Regions from separate parts of the Homo sapiens genome. Here region 2 is linked to region 1. Evidence: fine-mapped expression QTL. A gene starts in region 1. The other region holds a variant in brackets. All regions are shown on one strand. Distances are from middle to middle.

Region 1 (4,403 bases):
ATAGCTTGCTCCTGTTACCTTTCCCGCTTGTCTGAAAGGCCTAAATCGGATTCACCTTTCAAGGTTGGCTTTATGGATGGTGTTATTTCATCCATATCCCCCAAAACTGTCTCCCATTTGTTCCAGGATGCCTGAATCCCCTTAAAAGAGAACAAAGACTTTCATTTCACAGTGAGAGATAAAAGGCTTAGAATGAAAATGTCTGGTTGATATAAGACCAAGACTAAAACAAATTCATACCACTCTGAAGTCAGGCAGTCAGTCAGCAAGAAAAAGGAAATTGACTGGTATCAGAGGTATTCACAGTCATTGGTAGAGGAAAAAGGTTGTAGAGTAAATAAGTGGCTCCAAAAAGGGTTGGAGGATGCCAGCTTATGGCTCCTGTCCTGGTCTGGTGAATAGAACTTATTTTGGGTGCCAGCCCCATCCTAGCTGTTCTTTGTCTTGATCTAAACAACCAGCCCCACCCAGCTGAATTTGAAATCGGACACTCCTATGCCAAAACACTTTCTATATGAGGAATCAGAACCCTTTGTTGAACAGATAAATGCCTTGTACTGGTGACCTTTAAGAGTGGAATGAGTTATAGGTATATACTTGTAATTCTGTCTCTATTTCTGATATAGCCTCACGACATTAGCCTGACTGATTAGCATGACATTTACTTAACGAAGAGGATCTAAAGGGTTTTACTTAGGTGTCTCTAGACACTTCTATAATCCTGTATCAGTTCACTAACTTACCTTTACACTTATTTTTTATAGACAAAATATCTATCCCAATCTCTAATGATTCACCTCACAATCTTGTATGTGCTAAGTAAAAATCCCCAGCTAATTGTAAATAGCGCTAAAATAGTGAAAGCAAGCACTAGGTACAAATTGTTGCTGTTCTAAACCCCATACACAAACTAACTCATTTATTCCTCAAAATAACTCTACAACAAGGTAGGTACAATTATAATCCACAACTGCATTTGCAGATGAGAAAATTAAGGCACAGAAAGATTGAGTAACTTGACTGAGTTCACACAGACAGCAAGTGGCAGGGCCACGACATAAGTTGGGCCTTCTGACTTGAGTCTTGCTCCTAGCCACTATATTACACCACAACCGAGCTACTCAGACAACTGGAAATCACTTAAATCGTTTCTTATAAGAAACAAAGAGGACTCATTCAATCATCCTGATTGATAATCAGTGACAGACTTGAGGGAGGAATTGTTTGCAGTGTTAATAATCACCTACTTGCAGATCTGAAAAAGAAAAACCTTTTCCTCAACAAAACTCAAAAACTGAGTTGGACAAAAAAATGTTTTTCTAGTTGGAGACAGAAAGGTCATTTAGTAGTGCCACTGAGATGCTTACCCACAGTTTGGTTCCTGCTTAAAACAGTTTTCCCTGCTGGGCGCGGTGGCTCACACCTGTAATCTTGACACTTTGGGAGGCTGTGCCGGGCAGATTACCTGAGGTCTGGAGTTCAAGATCAGCCTGGTCAACCTGGTGAAACCCCATCTCTACTAAAATTACAAAAAAATTTAGCCAGGCGTGGTGGTGGGCGCCTGTAATCCCAGCTACTCAGGTGGCCGAGGCAGGAGAATCACTTGAACCTGGGAGACAGAAGTTGCAGTGAGCTGAGATTGCACCAGTGCACTGCAACCTGGGCAACAGAGCGAGACTCCATCTCAAAAAAAAAAAATTTTCCCATATTTCCCAAAATAGAAATATTTTCAATAAATCATTGATTCCACTCTTAATCTGCTTACTTCCCATGCAAAAGAGTCAAGGTAATGTCTACTACAAGCAAGATAAAATCATTTCAGACACTACTTTCTAGTTACAGAGTATAGAAATTGTCTCTGGAGAACTATATTTTGATACACATGCTAAACAATAGGAGGTCACTAGGACTCATCTGTAAGACGGTGGAACTCAATTTATCTATTCCCAAATGACTAATGGCAATGCTCATATTTTTTGGACAATTGCTGTTAAGGGATCCAATTCTCCTTATGAATTAAAGAAACTCTATGTTACTTCCTGTCTAAAAGGATTAATGGTTTACTACTAGTTACCAGTTGATGTGGTACTTAAGTTTCCTCAGGGCTAATGACCTGGTGGGGCTTACAGTACTATTCCAGGCCAATCATTGCACAGTCATCTCTTTCAAGAAAGTTTCTAACCAATAAGCAGAAGCCTAACTTTCTGGCTGAAAGCTAAGTGTCCCATATATTCCTGGGTGACGCTGAAGCAGGTTACATTTCCTCAGAAGAAGGCTCCTTGGTGGTAAGTTGAACATTTCTGGGCAGGGTAAAAATCATACTTAATATTATGTCATAAAGTAGATTCTGAGGAGTAGGTGAGGGTGTCAAGGACTATGAAGAGAAGTGTTTTGTAAAAACTAAAACGATAATAGCTTCATTTATAATTTCCCCAGGAAAGGTTACTTGAGAAATGAAGTTGAGGGTTTTTTTAATTCAAATACACAGCTTTAATAACTGCATGAGAGAGACAAGTTTTTATTTATATTTATCTCATTTTTCTAGAACTTCCCTTGAAAAGCCAAATTTTAAGGTATCAATAAGGAAATATAATTCTAAAGCAAGTGTTTTAAGACAGGCCAGTACTATGAAATTGCGAAAATTATTGTGAAGTCTATTCACCTCACAGTCAAATATAAACCTCTCAATTATTGAAGACATTTCATTAAAATGAGTCAGTAGAGCATGATTATTTTACCTAAACATAGCAGAGGACTTTTTTAAGGTATATGACTTATTTCTTATAGATATATGACTTATTTCTATATTCATATTTTTTTAAGGTTTCATGTTAGTATTTGCAAAACAAACAAATGTATGAGCAAATGAAACATTTGGATCTTGTAAAAGATCTAAGAATTCACAGAGACATCATCTTGATGGGATGTATTTTTTAAATGCATATTCTAAAACATAATTTTTTACTTGTTGCATAGGTAACAAAATTTGGAATTTATAAGTTGAACATGTACAGATTTTTATAAACTAGCAAGAATATATTTTTTAGAAGTTTTGTTTTTCATTTTATATGTTGTATAGTATATATTCCTAACAATCAAAATACTTTGCAGTTTCAGCATTTAGTACTGTCAGTGAACTGTGTCTTAGGCTGAGAATATTCTCATCAGCTCTTACTGTATTCAATAAGTAAAGTTACATCTTTTCTAAAGTCACAGTGAACTCCAGTGCACTGAATTCAAGCAAATACTACAAACACAGGTAACATTTTAATGACTGCATTGGAAGTTCTGTTTGCTGGAACAGTTTTCCAGTTATTTATTATCAGATTTAATTACTCACATGACTAAGGTTCCTGGACAGATAAATTTTAGTGAAATGAGTTTAAAATTGTATGTCTTGTAAAATAAAACTGTTCCCTTATATCCCACCCTTACCTAAATATATTTGTATTACTTGGAACAAGTTTAATTTTCTTTTTCAATGACAGCTTTGAAGAACATCCTGAAGATTATATCGGAGACAATATATCAAGAATCTATTTATTGAATCATCTAGAACAAAAGCCAGGAGCTCCCTAATGGAAGCACATTAGTGTTTATTTTGATGAAGAAATATATAGATTTTTTAAAACAACCACAAAGTAGATAGCTCAGTAAAAAATCAATTTTGGAAGATGTCACTGAACAACTCTTCCAATGTATTTCTGGATTCAGTGCCCAGTAATACCAATCGCTTTCAAGTTAGTGTCATAAATGAGAACCATGAGAGCAGTGCAGCTGCAGATGACAATACTGACCCACCACATTATGAAGAAACCTCTTTTGGGGATGAAGCTCAGAAAAGACTCAGAATCAGCTTTAGGCCTGGGAATCAGGAGTGCTATGACAATTTCCTCCAAAGTGGAGAAACTGCTAAAACAGATGCCAGTTTTCACGCTTATGATTCTCACACAAACACATACTATCTACAAACTTTTGGCCACAACACCATGGATGCCGTTCCCAAGATAGAGTACTATCGTAACACCGGCAGCATCAGTGGGCCCAAGGTCAACCGACCCAGCCTGCTTGAGATTCACGAGCAACTCGCAAAGGTAAGCTTGAAGGACACAAGCAAGTCTCCTCCCTTATTCATAACTTCAGATAATTTCCTTCTCTTTCATTACACTATGAATGAATGTGAAACAGTCAAATGGAGAGGTCTATTCCAAACACTATCCATCTTACTTACAAAACTGTCCCTAGTTCCCAGAAAAGTGTTTCACAGATGCTTTTTCTTTGGATTTTTTTTTTTCTTGAGACAAAGTCTTGCTCTGTCACCCAGCCTGAAGTGTGGTGGACACTGCAGCTTTGAACTCCTGGGCTCAAACAATCCTCCCACCTCAACCTCCTGAGTAGCTGGG
Region 2 (4,403 bases), 96 kb before region 1:
CTGGTTTTCCTACTACCTCAGTGACCCTGTTTCTGAAATTCATTTGCCAGCTTCTCCTTGCCTGCCTGGCTGCACCTCTGATCTCTAGACCCCTATATTCAACTGCCCACTTGACACACAGGTGTTGGAAGGACAGCGGGCTGTAGGGTGGCAAGAGAGATGACAAGGGACAAGTCAGGAGGCTATTGCAGAACTCTGGGCAACAGATGATGGTGGTGATGGATATGGAGAGGAGTGAGTTAACTCAAGAGAAGTTTAGGAAGCAGAGTTATCAGAACTCAGTGATTGATGGATGCTGTGAGGGAAGGGAGAAGTAGGAGTCACAGATGACAACCTGGGCGGCATCATTCACTGAGATTGGAAATGGGGAAGAAAGATGGGCCACATATAATACATCCTTTAGAAATGTTCCAGAAACCTGGTTTCTCCCAGCTGAGCTTTTAAGAGGTTTTATTCCCCTGCAAACAAAACAAAACAAAAAAACTGATATGTAGATACTGTCCATCAAGATCCACACACTCTGACCATCCTTGTCTTCCAACGTTACATGGACCATGTTTATTTGCTCAGCACTCTGTCTCCAGTGCTAGCACTGCATCTGGTATACAGCAGGTGCTCTATGAATAGTTACTCAGTAACTGAAAACCTAGTTAGCAAACCCTTATGAACAGTTAGGGACTACAGAAGAATGGGTGCTTCTTAACTTCTCTGTGCCTCTCCTTCCTCATATATAAGATGAGAATATTAGTGACAAATTTCTCCTAAAGTTATTGTGGGAATTAAATATCATAATAAATGTAAATGCTTAGAGCAGTGCATGCTCAAAAGAGCTATTTTGATTAATAATATACATAATTAATAATAATATATTTTAGGAAACTTCTACTCTGCCATGTAGAAGGGCCAAATGACTTTCATGATTTTTTTTTTTTAACAGAAAACTGTGGATCTTCAGGAGAGTAAGACCTGGACTTTGCTGAAACTTCTGAGCTCTGCTTCAGTCTCCTAGGCGCAAAGACCTGGTCTCTATGAAGCTCAGTGTCTGTGAGACGCTACCATCATGGCAGCCCCCGTTCATGTTTCTCTTGCTGACCTATCCTCTGCAGGGGAAGCCAAGTCTGCTAACGGGGTGGTGCCGTGCGGACACTCAATGTTGCAGTTAAACCACATCCCTTAAGAAGGAAACCTAAGGTGGCTGCTCATTTGAGGTTCTCCAGTGGCCACACCAATGATATGAGTGTGAGTCCACATGCAGGACGATTTAATGGCTGTGCAGTCATGCTCAAAAGGTAAGCACAGAAGGCGGAGAAGGACAGCCTGCCCTTGAAATGAAACCTCTTGTTCCCTTTGTATCCAGGAGGAAAATCTCATTAGAAAGATCCTCCAGAGCCACAAAAATAAGCACATGCGTCAAAAGGAGGGCAGAAAGCCCAGGACACGAGGCGGGGGGGCGCTGAGATAAAAAGATTATAGCTAGAAAACAGCCAATCCCACCATCATAGCTGCTGCCTCATCCCTTCCACACTTTCCAGACCCCCAAACTTGGCGGAATAACAGGGTCTGCTGTGGGAGACTAAGAGGCGGCCAGCCCAGGGCTCAGTGCACTGCCGCAGTGCTCTGCCATCAGTAGCAACCAGCATTTGCCTGGTGCTCTGGGGTTTACAAAACTCTTTCATATAGATATAAAGGAGATAATGTTTTCAAAATGCCTTCCAACTTTTTTTTTTTTCATTTCCTTTTGCCTTATGGCTACCCACGCATTGAATCAATGGCATTCATTGCTTCAAGTAAAGGCCAAACACAGCCTAGAACAAAGGAGTCATTCCCCAACTTCAAGTGTCAAATGCAATTTTTTTCCTTCTATCCACAGAGGGCAACAGTTTTAAAAGCCAAGATTTGTTGAAGGAAAAAAGAAAGCATTTTCTAAAATCTAAAACTCACTGTTTACATATCAAGAGTAAAGTTTGGAAGTCTGAGCATAGAACTCTACCAGGCTACCGAGCAGGCTGAGTCTATCAGGGAGATGAAGTCACTGAAGGTAGAGTTCTTCAGAGGCTGTCACTGAGATGAAGTTGGGAGTACAAGATATTTATTGGGCTCAGGAACTGTGAGAGGGAGCAGGATCGGGAAGTGGGAGAAGTCAAACTTCAAAGTTAAGTCCAACAAAGCCTCAGCTAAACCAGAGGGCAGCTCCGAAATGAATATTAGCCACTAGAGCTGTGTGTCGGGCTGAAATGGCTGGGCTTTTATGTCCCTGCCTTACCTGGACATGGGCTGCCCTGTGAACCTCTTGCCCTCAGGTGAGGTGGCTCCCTGCTGCTGAGGAGTGCATGAAGGGGCTGTGAGCTGGCACTCATAGCAGCTGGGGTGACATTCCTTCCTCAAGGGGGATCTGGGAGGCCCACGTCCATGTAGACCACAGTGATCTAATAGTTTCAGAAAGAACTGGAAAACGAGAGAGAGAAAGGCAAAAGGTGAGATTTGTGTGTCCTC[A/G]TGTTCTAGAAAAAAAGTAATATAGTTCTAATTCCTTGGACATATCTAAAACAGCAGCCCAGCAGGCCAAAACGCAAGGACCCTTTTCACAAAGACTTCTGCAGGTCATGCACTCAGCAGACAGACTTACTAGGAATGGCCATAGTTCCAGTCCCAGGAACAGTCTTGGACTGCATGGGCATGATGTACTAAGCTACTCAGATTACAATGGTCAGTCTTTATGGTCAATTCTGCTCCTTGTTCTCTAGCCCCACACCAGCCTCCTCTGCAACAACAACTGCAACAACAACAGAGATATGACAGCCTCCCTCTCTCATTGCTAAGGAAGGACTTCAAAGCACACTGAGTAATTTGCATTTCTTATCCCAGGACAGAGAGAATTATAATAAAGCATTCGTTGGCTTTTTCTCTTCAGGACCAGAGTCTTGTATGTTCAGTTCTTTGGCTTTTGAGTTCCAAACCTGTAGGAGAACTTCTAAGCCCAGCAAATTTTGAAGCATCCCTGATGAATTCCTTCATCCCGATTATTTATAATAAAGGAGGCATTAATCTCCCCACACAGGGATGGCAGCCTTCACATAGAAGACTAAGGAAAAATGATGGTGCTAACTCAGACCCTGAGGGGTTTATTATATTAAAGTGAAGGAAATAAATCTCCACACTCTATTGTGTTTGAGTCAGGGCCCCTCCACTTCTTGTTCTCACTGGCCACCCCCTCAGAACCCCCTAATGAAACAGAGCTAGAGGAGAAAATGGCAAAGCCAAGCAAGAGGCCTTTTTCCAGATCACTCCTTAAACCACCACATACTGAAACACTCAGGAAAGGCTTTTATTCAAACTCTGAGAACAAAGGCAGAGTAAGGCTAGCACAAATGAAGTAAGAGCAACAAGTATCAAAGAGCAGAGGCTAAATATCCAATTCCATTCTGTGTAAATACAGCTAATGAAAATGTCTTATCTGTTAATTTTTTCCCCAGCTGATGGCCTGCCCAATGCATTCAGTTTCATTGAGAGTTAAGGACTCTGCCAAGTTCTACTAACATAAAATGTGCTCTCATACAGTAGTACAGAGGGAAAAGGGGTTGATATTTTTGTTTTTTTATCACACAGCCTAAAAAGCATATGGTATTATCCACAATGACTGTTTCAGAAAGAATGGGGAGGAAGATTTTAACCCAGATTTGGCAAGCTCTAAAATTATTTCCACTCTAAAATATTGTTTATTTTAAATAATATTTGATCTGCAAAACTTGACTACTGCCAAAATAATTTAAACTCCCCCTTAGTATTTAGAGGACTAGAAGATGCCTTCCAGTGAAGGAAATAAAAAGTATAACTTTGAGAAGACAGTGAAGACCTCCTAGGAATTGAAAATGTTTTAGACAATTTTCACAGCATTGGAGCCATACAGCAGTAAAATTAGACCAATCTGAATTGGGTCGAAAATTAGGAATGTTCACTCATGCTCTAAACCAGTGCTGAACCCTGGTTTTAGTGCCTAACTTGAGTCTGGGAAAGGACAAGGGTCTGGGGAAGTTGGCAGGTGCCTTGTGAATATGTGAACCATTGAGTGAAATGCCATTCAACACTCAGTCATGGCTGTGGCTCCAGTTAGAAACTCATGTGATGGTTAGAGACAAAAAAAAAAAAAAATGACACTCAGTAGATAAGATGAAAGCTCCTAGTCGAGCTGATGCCCATACTGACCTCCTGTTCCAGGATCCTGAGGGAAAGCTGCCCATGCAACAGCAGCAACTGAGGTAATGAAGGCTCCACATAACAATGCATTTACATTCAAAATCCACTCTGCTCCACATTGTTCTTAGCAATCACTCACTCATCTTGCTAAATGTTACCCACGCGATCTGACTCTGCATGTTTACATTGCAAAAGGTAACTGTGAAATATGT

Alleles and levels. Positions count from the first base shown, and alleles are read on the strand shown. Sizes are in standard deviations (SD) of each study's normalised expression.
As copies of A replace G in region 2, the expression in prefrontal cortex of the gene that starts at base 2,257 in region 1 goes down (large effect, 1.2 SD a copy in BrainSeq).

The links. PIP is the estimated chance that this variant, and not a neighbour inherited with it, causes the effect.
Region 2: its variant is fine-mapped to the expression of SLC12A1 in prefrontal cortex (BrainSeq, PIP 0.95).

What each region holds. Positions count from the first base shown.
Region 1 is chr15:48,204,046-48,208,448 of GRCh38, forward strand. It overlaps SLC12A1 (solute carrier family 12 member 1), which reads left to right and starts at 2,257. Exons shown (of 27, transcript NM_000338.3): 1 at 2,257-2,285; 2 at 3,489-4,094. The coding sequence starts at 3,675.
Region 2 is chr15:48,107,678-48,112,080 of GRCh38, forward strand. It overlaps LOC124903485 (a long non-coding RNA gene), which reads right to left and starts at 2,445. Exons shown (of 2, transcript XR_007064619.1): 1 at 2,264-2,445. The variant A/G (reference allele first, on the strand shown) is at 2,494.